Linked DNA regions of Homo sapiens. Each later gene encodes a partner of the first gene's protein in a complex. Each region holds a gene or a part of one and is shown in the gene's direction. Other genes may lie near its edges.

Region 1 (8,340 bases):
GTGGGCCAGGACTGAGACCCGGGTCGACTCTCCTTGGCCTCCCAGTGTGACTGTGTCATGCCGTCTCACCCCGAGTCCTGGCGTGCCCTGTAGAAGAGGGAGGACACAGCCTCTCCCGGATGAGTCAGATCGTCAGATCGTCAGATCAGGGCTTTGTAACATTTGAAAGAGCTAAAAACTCGGTGTGTCCTCATCTCCTCCTTACCTAAGGACGCAAATCACATTGTATCAGATAGGCCCACCCTCATGGCCTCATTTGAGCTGATTTACCTCTTTAGAGGCCCTACCCCCAACTGCAGTCACAGCTGAGATCCTGGAGGTTCAACGTTTGCATTTGATGGGGGACAAATGCAGTCCGTGACCGCCCTGCCTCCTGTCCTGTAGATTTCCTTCTGTCTGGTTTTTTCCCCCAGACTTCTCAAAATGTATTACCTAGAGCCATTTGGTTCTTAAAAGAAAATGATGATAAGCATTTTCCCAGATCTTCAAAGTATCTTATAAACATCACTGATAAAAGCTGCATAGCTTGGTGTGCTCTCTCTCTGTTCTTTTTTTTTTTTGTTTGTTTGAGACAGTCTTGCTCTGTTGCCTAGGATGGAATGCGTGCTGTGATCCTGTCTCACTGTAGCCTCAACCTCCTGGTCATCCTCCCACCTCAGCCTCCTGAGTAGCTGGGACAGCAGGTGTACCACCACGCCTGGTTAACTTTTTTTTTTTTTGTGGTAGAGATGGGGTTTTGCTGTTACCCATAGGCTGCCTACTTCAGCCTCCCAGAGCCCCAGGATTATAGGCATGGGCCACTGCGCCCAGCTGTCCATCCTCTTGCTGGAACACGCTATTCATTTCCATGCACTGAGGGCTGTATGGTAGTTACACCTGGGGGTGAAGCTGGTCTGTCCCTGTGAGGTGGCACCAGGTGGCCTCATTTTCAAGCCATCCTTCAGAAACTTCAGAGTTGTCACCTGGCATTTCCTGTCAGCCTGAAAGTTATTTTAAGAAGAATGTATTGTGAGGCCGGGCATGGTAGGCCAATCCCAGTGCTTCGGGAGGCAATGGTGGGCAGATCACTCGAGGCCAGGAGTGCGAGACCAGCCTGGGTGACAGAGGGAGACTAATCTCTACAAAAAATACAAAAAATTAACTGGGTGTGGTGGCGGGGGTATCACTTGAGCCCAGAAGTTCAAGGCTACAGTGAGCCATGATCACACCACTGTACTCCAGCCTGGGTGACAGAGTGACAACCTGTCTCTTTAAAAAAAAAAAACAAAAACAAAAACCAGGCACGGTGGCTTATGCTTGTAATCCCAGCACTTTGGGAGGCTGAGGCGGGCCAATCACAGCCTGGCCAACATGGTGAAACACCATCTCTACTAAAAATAGAAAAAATTAGCCGTGCATGATGTTGAGCGCCTGTAGTCCCAGCTACTCGGGAGGTGGAGGTTGCAGTGAGCCGAGATCGCGCCATCGCCCAGGTGACAGTGCGAGACTCCATCTCAAAAAAAAAAAAAAAACCCGTTATAAATCCATAGGCAAAAATTGGGGTTTGACTTATACGTTGACAGTTTGCATTGCTTGGATTACTAATACATTTGTGAATTTAAATTTGATGTGTTTCCTGTTCTTCCTGTCCTTGGCCCCGTGTCTCTCCAAGGTCTTGTTTCTGTCAGTAGGTGGCATTCCCACACTCCTACAACGTGTTCTCTGTTCCTTGCTTAGAAACACCGCAGACGAAAACAAGTCCTTCCCCTCAAGCTTTCTGAGAAAGGCCTATGACTCTTCTCCTCTTGAGTGTTAAGACTGAATTTTTCCTTATTTTCAAACTCAGAATTAGAATAGGACTTGGAGTCAGCGTGAAGTATGGGAGCCCTCCGGCAGAAGCCAGGTGGCTGTTTCCTTTCATCCGGCCCCTCTCAACCCTAGACAGGCCCCCAGTGAGGGTCTCTGTCCCAGCACTCTCCTGTGGCCTCAGGCAGCAGGGTGTCCACTGGCGGGACAGCTGTGGGCTTTGTGGACAGCCCGCCCAAGGGGGCCGGGGCTGGTGGGTGAGGTCATCGGCGTCACAGCGGTCAGGAATCTGTGATGTTGAGGGTTTTGGGGGAGTTTGCATGGGGTCGTTGGACGCCGCTTGCTCTGTTGACTGTGAGCCACTCATGGACCACCATGAGAACCTGTTTTGCTGCTGGAAAGTCAAGGGTGCGTTCCCCGGGTGGCCGCCTAAGTTGGAGTCCTCCATGTTCCACATCTATTCCAGCACTAGGGTGGTTTCAAACACAGGATCTCAGGAGCCCTCAGAACTCAAGAGATGAGAAATACGCACCCCTCACTGTCTTTAGCAGCCTGGTGGTGACTGAACCTCTCCCAGGAAACTCCAGCAGAAATCTGGAGGGGACTTGAGGGCCACTCCCAGGTCTAACTCAGAGGTGGTCAGTTACTCACCTTCCTAGTTGAAGACCATGTTCCAGGTGTTTGGTCAGTTTTCGTTTTAGTCCATTTCCAGCATTTCCAGTCCTCAAAGCCCTTGGCCCGGGTGGTGGGTGCTGGGGCTACTCTGGCGCGGGCAGTGGGTGTGGTGGCTGCCCGGCCGGGCGTGCTCCTACCTTACCCTCCCAGGGCGCTGTGGAGCTGCCTCCTGACCTTCGGGTGTCCTGCTCTTGCTTGCAGGTGGTACAAGAGAACGAAAACGTCGTGTTCTGTCTGGAGTGTGCTCTGCGCCACGTGGAGAAACAGAAGTCCTGCCGAGGGCTGAAGTTGATGTACCGCTACGATGAGGTCAGTCCCTGCCCGCGGGGTAGGGCAGGGCGGCAGCGTGGCGCCTTCCCTGCTCCCGGCTGGATGTAGGCACTCCGGCCTGGCAGTTCTGTGCCTGGCGGGTAGTCAGGGCTCTGCAGGCCTGAGGTGCCCTGTTCTTAGGCCCTAAACCCATTCAGGCCCCATGTTAGGATCCCAGGGGGAGCGGGGTTCCTGCACGGGCATTTGGATTTGAGCAATGGGCTCTTAACAGGGCTGAGGCTCTTCCTGCAGCCGCCCCCCCGGCTTTCCCAAGGGCTGCACCACTGTGGTTTAGACCCAGACCCTTTTTTGTGACCTGTCCCAGGCACAGTGGGATGGTTGGCAGTGGCCTCTCCAATCTGCACTAACTTGACACCAGCCCCTTCAGGCTGAGAGAGCTGGAAGTGTCTGCGGACACTGGGGCAGGACGGGCCCCATGATGTGAAATCCCGGTGCCTTCCTGCAGGTGCCACGCTCTTCTGGAGAGGGGGGTCATAACAACACACAGCCTGTGCAGCTGGGGGCCGCTCTGAGTGGCGGAACTCCTGGCAGCAGTGCCTCTCCCCTGCTCTGCCCGCCTTCCCCACGTGTGCTTCCCACAGACTCTGATGAGGCTGGTTACGAGGAAGGTCGCCACATTGTGGTCATTGCACATTTGAGGCCACTGAGTGGGGTGGGTGCTGCGGGTATGACTGTGAGGGGCCTGGTGTGTCTGGGGGCCCAGGCAGTGGGGCCAAGTGGTGGGTCTCACTGGATAAGCCTTGAGCTAAATGATCGGAGAGCTGGAAGAAGAACTCTTTGCATCTGTTTTGTTTCAAAGAGCATGCTGGGTGAAGGCAGTAAGCACCTGCTGTGTCCCTCCTTCACCTTAGCAGCAAATGTCCAGGCACAGTTGCAAATAACGAAGCCTTTGCGGCTGAGCACGAGCATGGCTCTGGCACCTTGTGGGGGTGCAGGCGGCGGCACGGGGAGGCTTCCTCTGGCTGCCTGGAAAGCGCTCTGTGAATCATGGGTTGTACCTCTCACCAGCAGCCTGTTTCTGTAGTCGGATGTGTGACGTGACCAGATCCTGGGAAAAGAATGGCATTCAGGGGCTGTCTGAGACCTAATGGTTGGTTTTGATGAATTAGGAGCAAAGGTATTTGGAAACTGCATACTCTGTAGTGGCTGAGTAGTTCAGTAAGCATGTCTGTGCCTCTGTCCCCTGTTGAGCTGTGCATTTTTTTGTTTTTAAGACGGAGTCTCGCTCTGTCGCCAGGCTGGAGTGCAGTGGCGTGATCTCGGCCCACTGCAAGCTCCGCCTCCCAGGTTCACGCCATTCTCCTGCTTCAGTTTCTGGAGTAGCTGGGATTACAGGTGCCCGCCACTACGCACCCGGCTAATTTTTCTTTTTAGTAGAGACAGGGTTTTACCATGTTGGTCAGGCTGGTCTCAAACTCCTGACCTCAGGTGATCAGCTTGCTTCAGCCTCCCAAAGTGCTGGGATTACAGGCGTGAGCCACCACACCTGGCCCATTCTTTTAAATAGGAAATTTCTACCTTGTAAACAGAGACCATTGCAAAATCTTCTCAACCTCCCAGTGTGCCCAGTACACAAATCACCCATGTCTGGGCCTGCTGACCCGGGACAGTCTGCTTTAAACACCCACCCTTGCTGGGGTGGGGGGTGCACCTAGATTGCAAATCCCTGAATTCATGGCTTGGGTTCTCATGGATGGTGAAGCTCTCTGGGGAGTTTGGAGCCATTTGTGTCTCTGGCCCTTGCAGGCTGGCTGAGCAGGGTGTTGGGCCGCCTGCCGCCGAGCCTAGTGTGAGAGCACTGGTCTGGGGCAGGTGCTGCCCACCTGTCGAGCTGCACGCAGGGGAGGGAACGGTGTCCTCCTGTAACCGCACACTGCCGCTCCTCCTCACTTGTCCTTATGGTAAGGTAGCAGTAGCCGCCTAAATGGGTTTTATGGCAGCTCATCCACTTATCCTTTATCAGTGTTTATCATCAGTACCTCAAGCAGCCATGACTATGGTGTTATTACAGATACGTGTGGACCGCCCCGCCTTCCGAAGGCACCTTTAACTTGTGATGGGAGCCAGCTGTCACTTTCTCACCCTCATCTTGAGGGCTTTTCAGAGGACTAGAGATCAGGCCCTCAGATGTTTCATTCCATGGCTGGCTTCCTCTCCTGCCAGGGTCAGCATGGTTCCCAGCCACCCGTGGCCCAGAGAGATGCTCATAAGATGCACGTTTGCTACTCCTCCCCATGTTGTTTTTAAAAATGATATGATTATAGGATGTACTGTGTGAAAGTTACAAACACAGTTTTTGGTGCCGACAGATAAATGATTCTCTTGAGTGAATTACAAGGATATGTATAGGTTGAGAAGTGTTTGCATTTACTTGCATGGCCAGGTTCAGTGGCCGGTAGCTAAAGTGAGTCAAGTAGCTTGGGTATTTGTGTCACCATCCAGGATGTAACAAAGCCCCTGGGTCTCTTTGCTGAGTGCTCCGTGGTAGAGGCAGTGCTCTGGGCTCCCCTGCCAGCCCTGCCCTTATGAGCAGGCAAAGCATGGTGGACCAGGGTGTTGATGAGGATGAAACGGCCATGCCTGCTATGTGGCATCAGGAGGAGCTGGGAAAGGGAGACTCACTGCATCTGAGCCTCTCGGGGTTATTTTAAAACCTGTTGGTTGGTGTGGTGAAGGGGACCGCTGCCCTCTGCCCTAAACTTGCCCCTGCATGGCTCTCAGGGACAGAGCTCTTGTTAATACGGTATGTTAACTGTGTCTTCCTTTCACCCCCAAACAGGAACAGATTATCAGTCTGGTCAATCAGATCTGCGGCAAAGTGTCTGGTAAAAACGGCAGCATTGAGAACTGTCTCAGTAAACCCACACCAAAAAGAGGTCCCCGCAAGAGAGCGACAGTGGACGTGCCCCCCTCCCGTCTGTCAGCCTCCAGTTCATCCAAAAGTGCTTCGAGCTCATCATGAAGATGCCAACGCCCGTGGTCGATTTATATATATTTTTTTGTAATTATTATATTCTAGTTTGGAGTACTTGCTGTAGGATTCAAGCTGTCTTTGCACTAGCTCTAAAGAAGATTTTCTTCTGGTTTTAGAGAACTAATTTTGTTTTAGCATTAAACTGTTGAACTTTTTTTTGTACTTAGAAAACCTAGATACTGCAGTCAGATTTTGGAAACTGCCGTATAGTCACTGTTTTAAAAACCCCGGAGGGGCTGTATTAATTTGTATTGCCCCATGGCTGACAAAAGCCTTTTTTTTTGGTTTTGATTTTTTTTTTTTTGTAACTGTTGGGGGGAAAAAGGCTTTTTAACCCATTTTTGAAGAGGGTGAAGTTTGGAGAACAAATTTAAAAACCATCAGTCATGTGAGCAGATTTTTTAGAAGGGATAGGAGACACACGCGCACACACACACACACACGAAACTTGAAATGGCTTTGCTTTGGCTGTCGTCTTCTGCCGTGTGCCAGATGAGCTTGTGATCTGGGAAGCCGGGGCACCCCCGTTTTGTTTCTCTGGGCGGTTGTGGCAGCTGAAGGCGGACGTTGTTTCCTAACCATAGGTGGAACGAGGAGACGGGAGCGAGTGGGCTCTCCACCAGCACATCACTATGCATCTGTTCCAGGAAAGAAGAAAAGCGAGCGAGGAAGACGGAAAAGACTGCCTGCCTTGGAGGGGTCACATGAGGGAGACCTGTGCCTGATTTCATTAGGAAATCCATTCTGTTATTTTTTGGTGCTGTTGGCTACTTTATCAAAAAACCCTTCAATAGCATCCTTAAGATTTAAAAAAAAAAAAAAAAAAAAGGAAAAAAAAGTGATGGAAGCCGTAAGTGCTTCTTTGTCATCGACGTGCAATCTTTCTAACATTCCATCTCCATCTCACCGCTTCTTGTTTGACACCTTCACAAGTCAGCATTAATCTTTCTTTTAAAACTTGTTTCATTTATGATCATGTAGAGAGCCACTAGGAGGCCTGCAGTTATTTTTGAATGTGAAAATGCATTTGCGTTCATCTTGTCTATTTTTTCTCTTCATGTTGTAACAAAAAGGAAAAAAGAAAAAAAAATCCCATCCCTTTTGTACATATGCCTGTAAATTGTTTTAAATACTTGAGCCTTTTTCTCGGTGGGGGGTGGGGAGGGGGGTGAGAAGACAAGATGAAGAAAAGCCTTACATTTCAGTTTCTTCATCGGTTGGATTGGATGCTTACAGGGTTTTTCTTGTAACATTTATAAGTGCTGCTTACATCACTGAACAACAACAAAAAAATAATAATGGAGTAGCTGTTGCCCTTCTCCGGTTGTGTGTACAGTATGTGTGGAATAAAAAAGGGAAACTGTTTTCACAAGCTGTTCTTTGTTTCATAATTGGATTCATCAATCCCGTAGCTACCCATATTGCACTGAGCTTGCCAGTGGTGACTGCCAGGAACGTCCTATGATCCACTTTGTTGGTTGTTGTTGCAGAAGACTGAACTGTTTTGGAATATTTAACAATTACAGAAACAGTCAAGTGTTTTCCAATGTGGTTGTCCGGTTTCTATGGCCTTGCTGTGTACTTTCCCTCTTTTTGACAGTAAACTTCTGCCTATGGCTTACAGTTTGACATTTAATTTATTAGCGCTGCTCTGCACCCCTCCCTTGGGAGGGAGACTTCATGTGGTTTATTGCGAGTTTTTTGTTTACTTTTCAGGTTTGTACTACAAGGTTTAATAATAAAAACAAAGTTTTTTGGACATTTGTCTGTCTTGTGGAAGATGACTGAATGGAATGAGCTCTTTCTTTTCTCGTCCACGGGCAGGGGGCAGAGGATTCCCCCCAGCCAGGGAGCAGAGCCACCCCCCACACTGCAGTCCTGCTCCCACCTGCCACTGGGTCCCCTTCAGCCTAACCTAATGGTTTCCATGTGGCCTGCGGCCGTCCCCCTCATTTCCCATCGAGCTGCGCCCCCCTGCTGAGCTTGCTTTCATGATGAGACGACACTGGGTGCATTCAGGGTGGTATGGCTGCAGACAGACAGACCCCCTCATCCCGGCGGGGAGTCTGTCCCCTCTCTCTCATTGGGCTGGAGGAGTGATGGCAGGAACACATCTCCAGGGGACCAGTTTCTTTTCATAAAGAATGGAGGATTGCTTTGGGCTTGTTTCTGTTCTTTTGGGCCCAGGAGTGTGAAAAAGTAGGGGTTGGACTGGCTGGCTACTGGACTAATGATACTTACTTACTTCTGTAATGATCAACGGAAAACCCCAAGCTTTGCCAGAGTGGTTTGGCTACAGTCAGCTCTTCTACAGGAAGTGGCATTTTCCACTTGTGAAACGGTAGGTCATTCCCTGCCTCATGCAGAACTCAGCCCTGTGGAGCCTCCACCACCTGGCCCAGGCCCTGCCCACATGCAACCTCCCGGGGTGGCCCTCAATGACCTGCACGTCCCTTCACTCTAAGGAACCCTGAGTTACAGTGGCCTTAAGGACATGTGTATTTAGAAGCCTTTGTGTACAAACTAGCTCTGTGCGCTCTCAGTTTACCGTCCTCACACTTTATTGTTAGCTGTTC
Region 2 (7,000 bases), on another chromosome or scaffold:
TAGTTTTACTCTTGAGGGAGCCAAATAATGGCAAAAGGCCAAAGCAGATGGGGTGTGGGGGAATATGTTTTTGTGTTAGAGTTCAGGTAACCTGAGCAGTTACTACTGTTAATGTGAGTCAGAGAATTACAGGCACATATTTTACATTTATTGTGTTACCTGCCATTTTATTGAACTTTTTGAGATCATATGACTGCAGAGTAGTTGGCTTCTGCGAGAGTACTAATGGATGCCTTGGTAGTAAGATCAGAGGGCTGAATCTGGAGACTTGTCTTTTTGCTTAAGCAAAAGCAAAGATGCAGGGAATCCCTGTGGCAAGATGCAGGTGCAAATTACTGCCCTGTGTCTCTTTCCTCGTTGGGCAAGTGAAGATGGTAGTACCATGTCTGTTGCACAGTATCATTCTTTACTTTGAGAATGGAATAGGATGGAGGTCACCCTGTACATATATTAGACACTCAGCAAAGACTTGATTTTAGTTTAAAGATAAAATGGAAGCATGGTGGCTGTATTACATTTTCATTTGATTCCATCTTGATTTGCCTTGGGAGGAGATGGGTAAATTAAGTGATCAGAAGTAAAATAAGCAACGTGCCCTATTAACGAATGTTTTGTGTGGCCTCTGTATTGGCAGCTCAGTGTTTAGCCAGAATGTAAAGAAACTGATATATAAAAACGTCTTAGAGTTTTTAAAATTTCAGTTCTCTAGTGTTAAAAGGTAATTTTACAGAAAAAATGGCAAGTGAACACATGTTGAAACTTTTACTCAGAGGGAACCAGGCAAATGTTATACAGTAATGGTTAACCCGCAAAATCAAAACAGTACAAATTTATTAATATATGGAGTAAAGGAATGGAGAGATGAATTCCAAATGGAGACAGAAACTTTTTTTTCCCTTGAGTGGAAGGGAAGACATTTTGAACCTCTACTGTAGAGACAAAATTTACATGTCTATCAGTTATTCATAATGAAAAAAGAGTTGTGGCTGGGCGCAGTGGCTCACACCTGTAATCCCAGCACTTTAGGTGGCTGAGGTGGGAGGATCCTTTGAGTCCAGGAGTTTGAGACCAGCCTGGGCGACATCGTGAAACTCTGTCTCTACCAAAAATTAGCTGGGTGTGGTGGCCAGCTCCTGTTGTCCCAGCTACTCAGGAGGCTAAGGTGGGGGGAAGATCACTTGAGTCTGGGAGGTGGAGGTTGCGTTGAACCAAGGACAGAGTGGGTGACAGAGGGAGAGCCTGTCTCAAAAAAGAGTTGTAAGATAGCTCAAAGACATAGTGGAGGGCTATAGTCTGGTAACTTGGAAGGATGTGCTATATAGATAATGCATAGTTTTCCACTGAGATACAGAATTGTTTTCTACGTTTGATGTTAATTATGTGAATACAACTGAAAAGGTGGAGAGAAAAAGAGATTAAAATACCACATTTTCTATTTCTGTAAAGACTAATGATATTCACATTAAATTACAATTCAAATATTTGTTGAGTACGTACTGCTTGCTACCCGCCTATTATTTCATTTATGATATTTTTTAACCTTCTATATAAAACCAACTTTAGGAAGCAATAATTTAAAAATAGCCCCTAAAGCAGTGTTTCCTAGGCTGTTTAATAGGCATTTCATGGAAAAAAAAAAAAAAAAAGGCTTCCTCTGGAATGTATTTTAGAACTGCTGCCCTAAGATCCTAGATTAAATAAATCTTTTCTTTCCAAAGGAGACATTGGAATCTGTAATCAGGAGGTAGTGGAATCCTCTTCTGAGATTAGAGAGCTGAGATTAGAGGGCCACTCGTGTGTGAGATAAGGTATGAATTAGGAGAATTTTCAAGGTTTCCTGCAGTCATTTCTTTTTTTTGGAAGGATTTACTTTAATTGTGATTGAGAGTCTCTGGAGTTCTGATTTATGAGTATTATTACTTTAGAACAATGAGACAGTTTTAACTTGTAAATAGCATAGAATATATGTAGCACTTTAAAAAAATTCTAAATGTTTTGCGTTATAAGCAGAATTTGAATAACAGGATTTTAAAAAGTGACATCTAATGTAGAAGCCATTAACACTCCTGCTTCAAACGGCTCCCCAGCTCCATGCTCCAGACTGAGCAGCAGTCAAATACATTATGAAGACATATACATCAGTCAGATTTAAGAGTCACAGCTTTGGGATGGAATTACCAGCCAAGAGACCAGTTAGGCTTTTTCAGCACTTCCAGTACCTTTTGTAAAGAGCTGTAAAGATTCACTGATACAGTGTATTAAAGTGACTGGAACAGACCAGTGCCTTATTAAAGACAGTATTACTCTTCCATTATTCTCATTAGTATTTATTTCATTTTCATTTTTGTTGAAATATAAAATATCTACAAACCTTCTAACCTGTAGCTGGATTATGTTTATCCTTATGTGGAGGCAAGAATACATTTTTTTCTTCTTGTAGAAATTATTTCTCTTAGGTCAGTCAGCATCTTCCCAGTAGAGTTATTTACTGCTAAAAACAGTATTGCTGTTTCATGTAATTTTTCCTCATTTACTGCTTACAGGATGACGCTGTCAGTATAGAAAGTGGTACAAACACTGAACGCCCTGATACACCTACAAACACGCCAAATGCACCTGGAAGGAAAAGTTGGGGAAAGGGAAAATGGAAGTCAAAGAAATGCAAATATTCTTTCAAATGTGTAAATAGTCTCAAGGTATGTGCAAAAAAAGATCCTTTGGGCTGAATGCTAGGCTTCAGAAATTATTTCTCTGTGGCACGCATTTCGTACTCAGGATACTCTGTCAAGTTGTAAATATTTTAAAGTTACAATGTTTTCTGAAGGGTTTTTTTTTTTGTAGTTCAGACTGCGTATCTATTTTAGTCCATCCCATGTTTAGTTTTTTGGTTTTGTTTTTTGTTGTTTTAATTTAAATATGTGACAGTGTTGCAGGATGTTTTTGCTTTATTGTTTGCATTCAAATTATAAGATTTGGGTAACTATTACTCTTTATATTTTAGTAAAACTTAAAAAACATAAGCCACTTCTGGCATCAGTTTTTAAAAAGAACTGAATGTAACCCATTAACTTTGACTAAGTATAAATTGAAACAGATGTTTTACTTTGTACAGTTTCTGTCCTTTGTTTTATTTATAACTGTTTTCAAAGAAAAAGGTGTAAAAAATTTTTAAACTTTTTAATATTAAATATTTAGGGAAAAGGGGGTTTTGGTTATTTAAATTAATCTGTCCCCAATAGTATTTTTATTTACTTTATAAAAGGGGTTACTGGTGTTTAAGATATTTTCTTTTATATATGTCCAGTTTGTTTTTTAAATGTGAGGCTATTTTTTTCTATACTGAGGAAAAATGTGTATTATCTCATACATATGTAAGTTAAAACCTTTTCTAAATATCCAAATATATTTTTTATAAGTAAAGTTTTGGGAAAGCATAAGAAGCTATGACTATGACATTTTTCTGTCTGTGTAGCAAAAATTCGATGCTCAGTGTGTCAGATTTTGCTCCTGTAAAAGGAGAGAAATTAATCTCAGCATATTTTTTAAAAGTCAATTATAGTTTCATGTGCATATTTATTTACATTAACGTACTACTTTTAGGTACTGTACCTGGAAGATGTTTTTAGCTGCCTTTTATACTTAAGGCAGTATTTCAAAATCCTAAAGCTGTGGCTTTTCAAATGATGAGAAAACGAAAGACGTACTTTAAAAGTGAAAACAGTGCCTTAAACTGCATCTGAAAGTCAGTGTTAAATGCCAGAAGTTGGCCAGTAAAATCCTAAAGCTGAAAAATAACTTTGTGAACAAAAGTGCATAATTGTTCTTTGTACATCTCCTATAGCCTCCTGGTAACTGTGCAGTTACAGTTTATTTCTTCCCCTAGTCCCCAGTGTTCAGATATTCTCATTCTGACTAACAGAAAACAGTGATTTGAATGGAGTCTGCTATGCTTCACTTTACAAGGGAAAAATTTAGCCTTATAAAATTTAGTGAATGCCAGAGAAGCTATTAAGGCCATCTGTTAATTTCCTGTTTCAGAAAAATAAATTGTGTCCTTTTGTATCCACCAAAATTATCCAGTTTATTGTGATTCAGAATATGATTGGCTTATTAAGAAAAAGGCAAATATTATAAGTGTTTTCGTAGGTAAGCGGTTATTACCTAACTTGTGATTTCAGCCTTTGGTTGTGATAAAACTTTATCATACACAATATTTTAAAATGTGAAAACTAGACTAGTAGACATCTTTTAATTTTAGTGTCAAAAGTTAGCTTATGTATGATACACAAAATAATGTATTGCATTTTGGAAAAAAGAAGGGGATAGGTTAGTTTACTGTCATTTTCTGGTTTGTAAGATACATTAATCTTTTCTTATTTCATGATTATTTTATAGGAAGATCATAACCAACCATTGTTTGGAGTTCAGTTTAACTGGCACAGTAAAGAAGGAGATCCATTAGTGTTTGCAACTGTAGGAAGCAACAGAGTGAGTGTTAAGGGGTCTATTTAGTATTTGGCTTGATTTCCAGATCTGGTGTTAATGTAATATTGAAATAGAATAATTTCAAAGTGCATTTTGTGAAGCTGGTTTAGCAATATGATTCTTTCATGTAAGAGTGAAGGTTTCTAGAAATTAATTAAAACTAGTATGCATGGCTGAAAATACATCTATATTTAATATATTACCCCTAATTATTTATGAAACAGGTTTTATACTTGTATTTGTCTTCATAAATACTTGGTTGAAAGAATTGGCGTCCTTTTTTTTTTTTTTTAATTGGCGTTCTTTTTAAAGTGATTTTGGTATTTATCATTCAAATAGCGTAAGAACTGGCTGTGATTTTTTTAAAATTAAGGTAATGAATGGCTCTATAAATGAAGCATAAATCCAGTGGATTTAAATAAGTTATTGAGATGTTTTAATTACTTGCAGTAAACATTTGAGTTTGCTGGGTTTTTTTGTTTTGAGACAGGTAGTGTTTGGTGGTGATTGTTGTTGTTGTTGTTGTTGTTTGTTTTTGAGAGAGAGAGAGTCTTACTCCTTCCTCCAGGATGGAGTGCAGTGGTTAATCAAGGCTTACTGCAGCCTCAACTTCTGGGGCTCAGGTGATCCTCCCATGTCAGCCTTCTGAGTAGCTACAGGCATGCACTACCATCCCTGGCTAATTTTTTTTGTAGGGATAGGTTTTCACCGTGTTGCCCATGCTGGTCTTGAACTCTTGGGCTCAAGCAATCTACCTGCCTTGGCCTCCCAAAGAGCTGGGGTTGCAGTCATGAGCCACCATGTCCAGCCTTTTAAGGAAATTTTATAATGACATGTAAGGCTCTAGGCCTTTTACTATTTGACAAGGTCAATTCATTGAAACTCTAAATATTTTTAAGTTACCACTGAAGTTGATAACATGAAATAATAGCTTTTTTTCTTCTGTTTTTGGTGTTTAGTCAAATGTAGGTTTTAAGATAATGTAGTCTGCTTATAGTTGTTTAGTTCCTAGATTCTTTGAAAACAACAATTCAGAGGAAAAATTTTGCGGTTTTAAGAAAAGGTTGAGGTTATTTTTTTCCTAGTTGGGAATGTAGTGCATTAATTAAATTTGAGTCCACTTTTAAGACACCACTGTAAACCTAAGTTAATATTTAGCTTTGATAGTATTATAATTGGTATAGTTTGTGCTCCAGTGTGCTGATTGCAGTGTTTTAGGTTTTCTAACAAAAAGAATCCCTATTTTTATTTAAAGTGACATAAAGGGGTGTCATATAGTTTATTGAATTATAAAAAGTTCTGCTGTTAGAATTTCTTTAAAAGGAAGAAAGAAAACAAAAACAATTACCACATAAGACATAACCTAGTTAGCAGCCATATAAAGAATTTTTTTTGAACATTAACATAGAGGAGATAATGAATTAATAGGTTGTGATGATACACAGGATCTTCAGAGGTCTTCAGTACTATTATAAAATAATAATAGGTTTTTGCTAATGTGACTGACTATAAGCTATAAGAAAAATGGGGCCGGGCACAGTGGCTCACGCCTGTAATCCCAGCATTTTGGGAGGCTGAGGCAGGTGGATCACCTGAACTCAGGAGTTCGAGACCAGCCTGACCAACGTGGTGAAACCCTGTCTCTACTAAAAACACAAAAATTAGCTGGGCATGATAGCGAGTGCCTGTAATCTCAGCTACACGGGAGGCTGAGGCAGGAGGATCACTGGAATCCGGGAGGCAGAGGTTGCAGTGAGCCAAGATCATGCCATTGCACTCCAGTCTGGACGACAAGAGTGAAACTCTGTCTCAAAAAAAAAAAAAAAAAAAAAAAAAAAGAAAATGGAAAGAAATTTATAAAAGTTTAGTATTACAAAATTGTGTATGGTGTATGTATAGTTTTAATTTTAGAGTATGCAACAAATGAAAAAGGCTATCATACATGTGAAAGTTAATGTTTGATTATCTGTACCCATGAGAAAATAATTCATTAAGCAAATTGTAGACTTTTAAATATGTAACTAATATGTAAATACTCCAAAACTATCCAAAGACTTATTTTTATTTGAATTTTTATTTTTTATGGTTTTTTTTTTTTTTTGAGACTGAGTCTCTCTCTGTTGCCCAGGCTGGAGTGCAGTGGTGCAATCTTGGCTCACTGCAACTTCTGCCTCCTGGGTTCTAGCGATTCTCCTGTCTCAGCCTCCTGAGTAGCTGGGACTACAGGCACATGCCACCACACCCACCTAATTTTTGTATTTTTAGTAGAGACGGGGTTCCACCGTGTTAGCCAGGATGGTCTTGATCTCCTGACCTCGTGATCCACCCGCCTCGGCCTCCCAAAGTGCTGGGATTAAAGACATGAGCCACTGTGTCCGGACTTATTTTATTTTATTTTTTTTTGAGACAGAGTTTCGCTTTTGTTGCCAGGCTGGAGTGCAATGGTGCAATCTCGGCTCACTGCAACCTCCGCCTCCCGGGTTCAAGTGATTCACCAGCCTCAGCCTCCTGAGTA

The links. Proteins that work in one complex are often made in the same cells at the same time.
Region 2: the proteins of JARID2 (region 1) and EED are in contact, whole or in part, in a cryo-EM structure (PDB 6C23), measured with the Homo sapiens proteins. Residues at the interface, in NP_004964.2 of Homo sapiens: Pro109, Gln114, Arg115, Lys116, Phe117; in NP_003788.2 of Homo sapiens: Pro95 (codon at 4,411), Phe97 (codon at 4,417), Tyr148, Arg306, Asn307, Tyr308, Cys324, Asp362, Ile363, Trp364, Tyr365, Arg414, Asp430.

Annotation. Positions count from the first base shown.
Region 1 is NC_000006.12:15,514,500-15,522,839, forward strand, and holds the end of JARID2 (protein Jumonji), read left to right. Parts: intron 1-2,661; coding exon 2,662-2,769; intron 2,770-5,569; coding exon 5,570-5,752; 3' UTR 5,753-7,543; downstream 7,544-8,340.
Region 2 is NC_000011.10:86,247,753-86,254,752, forward strand, and holds part of EED (polycomb protein EED), read left to right. Parts: intron 1-1,696; exon of another isoform or gene 1,697-1,808; intron 1,809-2,543; coding exon 2,544-2,696; intron 2,697-4,395; coding exon 4,396-4,488; intron 4,489-7,000. UniProt on the Homo sapiens protein: Polycomb group (PcG) protein. Component of the PRC2/EED-EZH2 complex, which methylates 'Lys-9' and 'Lys-27' of histone H3, leading to transcriptional repression of the affected target gene.